Regions from separate parts of the Homo sapiens genome. Here region 2 is linked to region 1. The links come from fine-mapping of genetic effects on gene expression. A gene starts in region 1. The other region holds a variant in brackets. All regions are shown on one strand. Distances are from middle to middle. Region 1 holds the start of CACNG8 (calcium voltage-gated channel auxiliary subunit gamma 8). Region 2 has its middle 19 kb from the start of NLRP12.

Evidence for each region. PIP is the estimated chance that this variant, and not a neighbour inherited with it, causes the effect. A credible set is the group of variants that fine-mapping cannot tell apart.
Region 2: its variant is the best candidate, but not a certain one, in a credible set for the expression of CACNG8 in lung (TOPMed, PIP 0.79).

What each region holds. Positions count from the first base shown.
Region 1 is chr19:53,960,284-53,965,655 of GRCh38, reverse strand. CACNG8 (calcium voltage-gated channel auxiliary subunit gamma 8) reads right to left here and starts at 2,719. Exons shown (of 4, transcript NM_031895.6): 1 at 2,231-2,719. The coding sequence starts at 2,513. RefSeq lists enhancers at 3,358-3,878, 4,689-5,372.
Region 2 is chr19:53,840,491-53,845,862 of GRCh38, reverse strand. No RefSeq gene overlaps it. Among named protein-coding and RNA genes, the nearest start is that of NLRP12, 19 kb to the right of the region's middle. RefSeq lists an enhancer at 4,769-5,372. The variant C/T (reference allele first, on the strand shown) is at 3,024.

The sequences.
Region 1 (5,372 bases):
TTTTCCACTGCTGCAGCCCCAGAATCCAGAACAATGCCTGGCACATAATATAAACTCAATAAAAATGGGACGTTGAATGAACGAATGAATGAATGAATGACATCCCTACTAGATGCCACGTGCTGTCCTAGGGCTCCCATGATGGGAGCCCTCACACTTGGCTCTATGCCTGGTACTTGGTCAGACCAGTGAATGGACATGAACTCAAACTTCCACAGGAGAGGCAAAGAACATCACGAGAGCCGTGGGAGGAATGGGAGGCGAGACGGAGCAGATGGAGGTGACTGTGGGGAAGTGGAGACCCCCCAGCTGCTGCTCAGATCCGGCCCATCGTGGTCAGGGTAGAACACAGGCTTGTGCTAGATCTTCCGCCAGCTCAGAAGAAGCCGGAAATCAGAACTACAATGGGAAGCCTCCCTATTTTTAACTGTTGGCAATGGATTCAGATTTTGCTTTCAGTTTTAAACACTTTGTACACTAGACAGAGCGCATCTGTGAATCCCATCCATGAGATTCGAGTTCTGCTCTTGGCTCGGCCCCTTTCTCAGCTAGGTGACCTTGGGCAAGTGACTTCACTTCTCTGAGCCTCAGTTTACCCATCCCCAACAGCGAGGTGGTGCCCACCTCATAGGATTAAACGAGATAACGTTCCCGGCTTGTCGTGAACACTCAGCAAAACAGAGGAAGAAGGGGCAGAGGAAATAGAGGGGGATGAAAAAGAGAAGCAAGAGATTTCAATCTTTTGGCCGAAGGGGGCATCAGGATGGCTGGTTCCACTCCTTCACGTTGCAGACAAGGGCTGTGAGGCTGGGGTGCAGGAGGGAAGACAGTGGTCACACAGCAGGGCAGATATGCAGCAGAACTGGCACCCAAGACTCCTGCTTCCCAGCCCCGCAGCTACTTGATACTCAGGAAAGAAATACTGATGCTAAGAGTGGGAGAGAGAAGGGGTTGGCACAGCAGAGGGCAGGAGTCTTGGAGAAGTGGGGAAGTCGAGAGCCAGGGAGCCGAGCTAGGAGAGAAGCTGTGAGAGGGAGAACAGGACAGAGGAAAAGAACCAAGTCGAAGATCCGAGGAGGTAGCAGGGGCAGGAGCGAGAAGCCTTAACGTGAAGGCCTGAGGCATCGAGTCAGGAAGACGTCGAAGGAGGCATGAGTGGAGGAAGAGGAAGTGGAGTCCACTAAAGGAAAAAGGAGGAAAGGACCAGGATGGGAGGTTGGAGGGCACCCTGGTGGGAGAGACATGGGTGGGGGCACTGATGGGAAGAGAAAGATGAACAGGAGGAGAAGCACAAGGCAGAAAAGAGAGAAAGTCATGAGTGAGGGCGAGTTAAGGCACGAAGTTTCAGGGGAGCAGCAGCCAAAGAGAAGGGGAAAGAGACAGACCGGAAGACTGGGCCGTGAAAGGGGGCGGGAGAGGCAGGGGACTTCAGAGGACTGGGGGGGAAATGTCGGGAGAGAGAAGATGTCACGGGGCACGAGGGAGAGGAAATGAAGGGGCAGGTGGAGCGGAGGAGCAGGGTCAAGATGAACTGACGGGAAAGAGGGAGAAAGAGGCTGCTGGGTGCAGTGGCTCATGCCCTTCATCCCAGCACTTTGGAGGCCAAGGCAGGAGGATCTCTTGAGCTCAGGAGCTCGAGACCAGCCTGGGCAACAGGAGACCTCATCTCTACAAATAATAAAAAAAATTAGCTGGGCACAGTGGCTCATGCCTGTGGTCCCAGCTACTCAGGAGGCAGAGGTGGGAGGATGGCTTGAGCCTAGGGATTCGAGGCTGCAGTGAGCTGTGATTGTGCCACCGTACTCCAGCCTGGGCGACAGAGTGAGACCTTGTCAAAAAAAAAAAAAAAAAGAGAAAAGGCACAGGGCAGAGTGGAAGAAATGAAACAGGAGGAGCCCCAGGTACTGGAGAGAGGGAAGATGCAGGGGTGTGATGGGGCAGCGCAGGAGACACGGACTAGGGAAAGATAGGATAAGGGGGTTCAGCGGAGAGGCAGAGGGGCTGCAGAGGGAGCATGCCGAGGAATTCCGCAGGGTGCCAGGACGCAGGGAGGAGTGGGAAGGAGGGGAGAGGAGGTCAGGGGCGCGAGTGGGAAGGCGCAGAAGCCCCTCTGGCAGAGGAGGAGGGGTGCCCAAGGGGGCCCCAGGATCAGGGACAGGCAGCCCCGGGAGGCTCAGGGTCTCTCGGAGGGGAGCGGCGGGGGCTGCGGGGAGGGCCGCCCGCACCCTACCTTCCAGGCAGCAGATCCTCCAGAGGCCCGAGTGCGTGAGGCCGCCGGGGTCCTTCTTCTCCGAGGCGCCGCCGCCCCCGCGGTGGGGGGTCCCGTCGTCGCCGCCGGCCGTGAGGTTGGTGGTGTTGCAGATGAGGGCGCGCGTGTAGAGCCAGTAGTCAGTGCTGATGGCGATGGTCATGAGGCCGAAGGCGGCGAAGGCGCCCACCGTCGTCAGCAGCACCTGCACCCCCTTCTCGCACCAGAGGCCCCGCTCTTCGTTCCAGCGCTTCAGCGACTCCAGTTTGACCACGGGCAGCCGGGGGGCCGTGGGCCACCACCGGGGCAGCGGGGGCGGGGCCGTGCCGGCGGCTGGGGGGGGGTTCACAGCGCAGGCAGAAGCGGGGGGCCCGGGGCCGGCGGGGCTGGGGAGGGGGGCGGCGAGGAGGAGGCTGCGGCCGGGGAGGGGGTCAGAGCGCGGCCATGGTCGGCGGCTGGTGGAGGGCAAGGAGCGAGATCTCGCATTAGAGGAGAAGAAGGCACAGGTACCTCCCCCAGTCCCCGCCCCCCCCCCCCCAAAATCCCTGCCTCAGCTCCAGAAACTCCTTCCACTCGGGGCTCCACTGCTTCTCTTTCTCAAAAATAATAATAATAATAATAATAATAATAATAATTAATAAATAAGATGAAATCTCTCTCCACTCTTGTCTTCTGCCCAAGAAAGTCATCCCACCATCCCACTAACCCCACTCGGAGGAGTCCCCACCACCGCTAATAATTAATAAATAAGATGAAATCTCTCTCCACTCCTGTCTTCTGCCCAAGAAAGTCGTCCCACCATCCCACTAACCCCACTCGGAGGAGTCCCCACCACCGCTAATAATTAATAAATAAGATGAAATCTCTCTCCACTCCTGTCTTCTGCCCAAGAAAGTCGTCCCACCATCCCACTAACCCCACTCGGAGGAGTCCCCACCACCGCTAATAATTAATAAATAAGATGAAATCTCTCTCCACTCCTGTCTTCTGCCCAAGAAAGTCGTCCCACCATCCCACTAACCCCACTCGGAGGAGTCCCCACCACCGCTCACACTCACAGCCCTCGCCCCTAGCCCGCGCCGCCTCCGCCCCAGGGGGCTCCACGATCCTCATCGCATGGGAAGCCACCCCCCGCCATGATGCCAAGCCCCACGCCGCCGCCTCCTCCCCAGGAGCCCCCGTCGCGTTCTTCCTTCCTTAGCGACCCCCGCCCCATCACCATGCGGCGCCCACCAGCTCTCCCCACTCTTCCCCTGCAAGCCCCACCTCTCCACCCGCTAGAACCCTTCCCTGTCAGCCCAACTTTTCCCTGAGCGTCTCCACAACTTAAGAAGCCCGAGTAGCACCACTTCCGTGGGAGTAACCTCCGCGAGCCCCCTCCGGTCTGGCTTTTGTCATTCCATCACTCCAAATGGTCCCCCACAGTTTCCTCTCCTTAGGAAAAAATAAATCTCTCAACCTCTCTTCAACTAAAAAGGAAAAATTAAAAGAAGAAGAAAAAGAAAAAGAAAATCCCAGCTGACCCTCACAGTTTGTGCAACTCGGAATCACCAGCCACCCTCAGTCAGCCTCCTCTCCCTGGAAGCCCCCTTCCTGCCTCGGGCAGCCTCCAACACACCTGGAAATCACCCGAGGACCTTAAAAATTCGGATGTTTGAGTCCCACCTGAGAAAGTCCGACATGGTTGGTCTGCAGTGTGGCCTGCGCATGTAAGTTTTTAAAAGCTCCCTGGGGAATTCTAATGCACCCAACATCAGACCCACTGGTTTGCAAGCTGCCCCCCCCCCGCCATCTCCAGCCCATTCCCTGTCACAGCCCCCACTGTCTCCCCACAAGCCACTCACTCCCCACCCCATACTATGCCTTTACTCCAGGAAAACCCCCACCCTCTCTTTTGCTTTAGAAGAGTTTTCTGAATCTTCCCACCCCGCCACCCCCCCCCCCACAACTTAAACGAACTCATATCATAACCATCGTTTTCTCCTCCATTAAGAAAAATTTCCTCCGTGAGTTCCACGGCATTTTCTACTCGCAAGAATGGCTTCCTCCAGACCCCAAATGTCTCTCCACTCAGGACCATTCCAATCTCTGCCCTGTACTCCCATAGCAGGGGGCACACTGTACCACCCACCCGCCCCTCTGCACTCACAGCAGCTCCCACTGCCTCCAAATCCCCTCCTCGTAGCCCTTCATCATCACACGGGATCTTCAGCACACTGTTTCCCCCAACTTGAGATCCCCCTAACTCACTTTGAAGCCCACTCTCTCTTCAATGTACCAGGAAGCATCCTCCCCAACTTCTCTCTCATCATATAGAATTCCCTTGACTCACTTCCTCTTGCTCCACCGCTATAGCTCCCAGGTTCTCCTCTGCCCCGGAAAATCCCCTCCGCAGGCCCCCACAGGCTTCCCTTCTTGGGAACGCCCCCCAGTACTCCCCTCTACGACTTCACCTGTACAGGAACACACACTGTAGCCCCTCATCTTCTTCCACATGCAGAAAGAGCCCCCCCAGTAGACTGTGTCCCTCTGAAAAATGTGATCCGCAAGACTACAACTCTCTTTTCAATTAGGAATACTTTCCCAGCCTGCACCCGCTGCCCCGTGGCTCCTTCATTTCTCTCTTCCACATTCTCCCCCGACCACCATGCCCCCAGCCCTGCCTGTCTCCCCCACCCCAACTGTCCTCTGGGGGATGTACTCCTTACTTGCTTCCACACTGCTTCTTCAACTTCTTCCCCCAAACCCACTATAGTTAAGAGCCTGGAAACCTTAGACGAAGAGGGGATTAAAAAAAAACAAAACAAAAACCAGAACCTAGGTCCCAGTACAGGGTGACCTTGGCCTCCTGATTGCTTGCCCGTCTCCACTGCCCCCCATCAGCTGGCCTCAGACTGGGGCTGCTCCGAGGAGGGGCTGTGGAAAAAGGTTGTCTATGGGGGGTGTCTCCATGGCAACTGGGCCTAGTGCCCCACACGTTGTGTTCCCTCCCCCACCTCAACTCCCGTCTGCCCACACACAGCCCTTCCTCAGGCCACAGTTCAGCAGCCCGCTGGACAGGGCAACCCCCAGCCTCCCGGCCTGGGCGCCGGCCCCTTCCTCTCTTTTCTGTCCGCATGCTGAG
Region 2 (5,372 bases), 120 kb after region 1:
GAGGCGGGCGGATCACAAGGTCAGGATTTCCAGACCCAGCCTGACCGATATGGTGAAACCCCATCTCTACTAAAAATACAAAAATTAGTTGGCCGTGCCGTGATGGTGGGTGCCTGTGGTCCCAGCTACTCGGGAGGCTGAGGCAGGAGAATCGCCAAACCTGGCAGGTGGAGGTTGCAGTGAGCCAAGATCGCGCCATTGCACTCCAGCCTGGGCAAAAGAGCAGGACTCCTTCTCCACAAAAAGAAGAAAGAGAGAAAGAAGGGAGGGAGGGAGGGAAGGAAGGTAGGAAGGAAGGAAGGAAGGAAAGGAGGGAGGGGCTGGGCACCGTGGCTCATGCCTATAATCCCAGCACTTTGGGAGGCCGAGGCGGGGCGGATCACCTGAGGTCAGGAGTTCGAGACCAGCCTGGCCAACATGGCGAAACCCCATCTCTACTAAAAATACAAAAATTAGCTGGGCGTGGTGGTGGGCGCCTGTAATCCCAGCTACTCAGGAGTCTGAGGCAGAAGAATCTCTTGAACCCGGGAGGTGGAGGTTGCAGTGAGCCGAGATCGCACCATTGCACTCCAGCCCAGGCGTCAGGGCAAGACTCCATCTCAAATAAAGAAGAAGAAAATGAAACTTTATATTGATAACCTGGATTTGCCTCATTCTTCAGTTTCTTAACTCCATGTGTATTTGGGGGCTGCTTTGCACATAGGGCCCTTTCACAGGAGGGGAAGGCTTGTTACACAGCAAAAGGTATTGGGCGCACTCCTGCGCAGGTTTCCTCTCCGCTCTGCTTCCCCTTTGTGGACCGAAACTGATGACAATACACACCTCGTGGGTTGTTGAGTGATTACGTAACTTAATGCATGTAAAGGGCTCAGATCATTGCCTGACACACAGTACGTGGTGCTCAGTAAATGTTGGTTGTTGTGGTTATATGCAATTATTCCAAAATCTGAAAAATCAGAAATCCGAAACGCTTCTGGCCCCAAGCATTTTGGATAAAGGATACTCAACTCTTATTTATATACTAAAATACTATTTACTTCATCCTTTCCTTAAAATACATATATTTCAGCCTGGGCAACATAGTAAGACCCCGTCTCTACAAAAAGATACAAAGATTAGTTGGGCATAGTGGTGTGCACCTGTAATTCCAGCCAGCTGGGGGGTTGAAGTGGGAGGATTGCTTGAACCTGGAAGGTTGAGGCTGCAGTGAACTGTGATCTTGCCACTGCCCTCCAGCCTGGACAACAGAGCAAGACCCTGTCTCAAAAACAAATAAATAAAAAACAAAAACCATATGTTTGCTTAAATTAAAAAAAAACACAAAAAACAAAACTTCGGCTGGGCACGGTGGCTCACACCTGTAATCCCAGCACTTTGGGAGGCCAAGGTGGGCAGATCACGAGGTCAGGAGATCGAGACCATCCTGAGTAACATGGTGAAACCCCGTCTCTTTTAACACACACACACACACACACACACACACACACACACACACACACACAAAAGCCAGGCGTGGTGGCGGGCACCTGTAGTCCCAGCTACTCGGGAGGCTGAGGCAAGAGAATGGTGTGAACCCAGGAGGCGGAGCTTGCAGTGACCCGAGATCATGCCACTGCACTCCAGCCTGGGTGACACAGCAAGACTCGGTCTCAAAAAAAACAAAACAAAACAAAACAAAAACCTTCAAGCAGCTATGACATAAGTGAGCACAGGTTTACTCATTAGTCTTTGTGTACGTATCAAAGAAAAACGTGAGCAAATATTTACATACCAAGTGTCCTGAAATTAGGATCAACTATATATTTATTCCATAACTTGTCATTGTAGAAGACATTATTTTTGTAGCATTTAGAGACTCATTTGAATAATTCAAATGATTATGAACTTGCAACCTGGAAACCATGACAGTTATGGACAGCTATGTTTTCTAGAATCTTTTTTTTTGTGTAAAATTCCCGATTAAACGGTGTAAATTATGTTTGCAAAAAGAAGGTGAATTTGCTGAACAAACGTATGATAATTAGCCATGGCTGTGACTTTGCCGATAGTTTTTGTTTTGTTTTGTTTTGTTTTGAGATGGAATCTCACTCTGTCACCCAGGCTGGAGTGCAGTGGCATGATCTGCAAGCTCACTGCAAGCTCTGCCTCCTAGGCTAATTTTTTGTATTTTTAGTGGAGACCGGGTTTCACTGTGTTAGCCAGGATGGTCTCGATCTCCTGACCTCGTGATCCGCCCATCTCAGCCTCCCAAAGTGCTGGGATTACAGGTATGAGCCACCACACCCGGCCTTTGCCGATAGAGTTTTAAGTATCTCAACCTGCACGGAAGACTGCATAGATTATTTTAGAATCTGGAACAAATAAAAAGTCATTCCTCTTTGCAAAGTTATTCTGTGCATAAAATAAATAAATGACTCTAACAGATTAAGTCTAGAACAGTGGTTCTCAACGGAGGGCAATTTTGCCTCTTGTTTTAAGATGTAGGGTCTTTTGGGGGGTGGGGTTGTATGTTTGTTTGTTTTTTGAGACAGGGTCTAGCTCTGTCACCCAGGCTGGAGTACAGTGGCGCAATCTTTGCTCACTGCAACCTCTACCTCCCGGGTTCAAGCGATTCTCCTGCCTTGGCCTCCTGTATAGCTGGGATTACAGGCGCCTGCCACCACACCCGGCGAATTTTTGTATTTTTAGTAGAGCCGGGGTTTCACTATGTTGGCCAGACTGGTCTCGAACTCCTGACGTCAGGTGATACTCCTGCCTCGGCCTCCCAGAGTGCTGGGATTACAGGCGTGAGCCACTGCGCCTGGCAAAACGTAAGCTTTATTATTCAGTTATTGTGAGGCCAACAGATCAGGAGACAGTTGCCATTGATAAGACAGTTTGTGGCTGGACACGGTGGCTTTTGCCTGTAATCCCAGCACTTTAGGAGGCAGAGGCAGGTGGATCACCTGAGGTCAGCGGTTCGAGACCAGCCTGGCCAACATGGTGAAACCGCGTCTCTACTAAAAATACAAAAATCAGCTGGG[C/T]GCGGTGGCAGGTGCCTATAATCCCAGCTACTCGGGAGGCTGAGGCAGGAGAATCGCTGGAACCCGGGAGGCAGACGTTGCGGTGAGCCCAGATTTCGCCACTACACTCCAGCCTGGGCGACAGAGCGAGACTTTGTCTCAAAAAGGTAAGTAAATTAAATAAATAATAGAAAACATCTCTGCTATTTTTGTCAGAGTTGAATCACCCAAGTAGAATTACTGTAAGAATATTCATGCGTGAGACCATATTAATTTCTAAAACTGCCGGTTGACCTTCTGAACTGGCTTTACCCTCTGCTGGTCATCACTGGCTTTAACAAAGAAGAGGTTTTTTTCCCCCTAAGGGAACAATGGCATTCCTTTAACTTGCATTTCTTACTGATTTGTTATCAGAACTTGGCACTTGGCTGCGTGTCAATTTATGGCATTGTTCACTGAGACTATTCCTATTAAGTTTTACTTCCTCAGTTGACTCCGTGGTGAGTCATTACAAAGTTTAAAGGGAACGCGATTAGGTTTACTTCCCCTCGAACAGCCTGTCTTCTGCTCGCCCACCTGTGTCTCAGCGCCCTCTACTGGTGCCTAAAATCCTATCATAATTTAGTCCACAGGAAATAAAACAAAATCCTCTGCAGTCCCAGGCCAGCCCTAGCCGGGCCCTCCGAAACAGAGGTCAGAGGTCAGTCTAGAAAACTCAGAAAGGGGCGCTTTTCATTGTTCCATATGAAAATCATTCCAATTTTGATTTTCACCATCCACGGAAGCCTCAATTTAAAAAAAAAAGTATCTTGCATGAATTGACTGCTGGGCAATCAGTCCTAAGATTGAAATTGTTTGTGATTTTCAGTTACCGGTTAATGACTAGACAATTAGGCAGAAAGAAATCACTTGCCCAGGCCGGGTGCGGTGGCTCACGCCTGTAATCCCAGCACTTTGGGAGGCCGAGGAGGGCGGATCAGCTGAGGTTGGGAGTTCAAGACCAACCTGGCCAACATGGTGAAACCCCGTCTCTACTAAAAATACAAAAAAATTAGCCAGGCATGGTGGCGGGCGCCTGTAATCCCAGCTACTCGGGAGGCTGAAGCAGGAGAATTGCTTGAACCCGGGAGGCAGAGGTTGCAGTGAGCTGAGATCATGCCACTGCACTCCAGTCTGGGCAACAGAGCAAGACTAGGTCTTAAAAACAAAAAGAGAGAGAAAATAAATCACATGCGCCAGGCAGAGCTGTGTAACCCAAGCCTCAATTTGCTCAGGTGTAAAAGATGCATTCCACCTTCCAAGAATGTTCATTAATTTTCTTAAGTACAGGCATATGTGGAGCCCAAGGTCGTTACAGCTAACTCTGGTCCCCTTAGTTTTATATACTTTGACCAGTAGGAGTGTTCCTAAAACTAGCTAGATAGGAGAGTTGTTTTATAGAAATTATATCTCTTCTTGGCAATAAAACTAGGGTACCTTCTATCTGAAGCCTGAATTGAAAACGTAATACCAATTTGGACCAAGCACAGTTGCTCACGCCTGTAATCTCAGCACTTTGGGAGGCCAAGGAGGGAGGATTGCTTGAGCCCGGGAGTTTGAGACCAGCCTGGGCAACATAGTGAAACCTCATCTCTACTAAAAATTAAAAAAAGAAATTAGCCAGATGTGCTGGTACGTGCCTGAAACCCCAGCTACTCAGGAGACTGAGGCAGGAGGATGGCTGGAGCCCAGGAGTTTTGAGGTTTCAGTGAGTCATGATTGCACCACTGTACTCCAGCCTGGGTGACAGAGTGAGATCATGTCTCAAAAAAAAAAAAAAAAACAACTAAGAATAAAAAAAATAAAAACGCAAAACATGGTACCATTTTAGTTTTTCTTTCTTGTTTTTTTTTTTTTTTTTTTTGAGATGTTGTCTTGCTCTGTCGTCCAGGCTGGAGTGCAATGGCACAATCTCGGCTCCCTGCAACCTCTGCCTCCCAGGTTAAAGGGATTCTCCTGCCTCATCCTCCCGAGTAGCTAGGATTGCAGGCATGCACCACCAAGCCCAGCTGATTTTTGTATTTTTAGTAGAGACGGGGTTTCACCATGTTGGCCAGGCTGGGCTCGAACTCCTGACCTCAGGTGATCTGCCCAACTCGGCCTCTCAAAGTGCTGGGATTAGAGGCTTGAGCCACCGCTCCCGGCCTGTTCTGGACTTTTTAAAAGCATTTTAATTAATTTAAAGTATTAATTTAGGCCAGGCACGGTGGTTTACGCCTGTAATCCCAGCACTTTGGAAGGCTGAGGCGGGCGGATCACCTGAGGTCAGGAGTTCGAGACCAGCCTGACCAGCATGGCAAAACCCCATCTCTACTAAAAATGCACAACAAA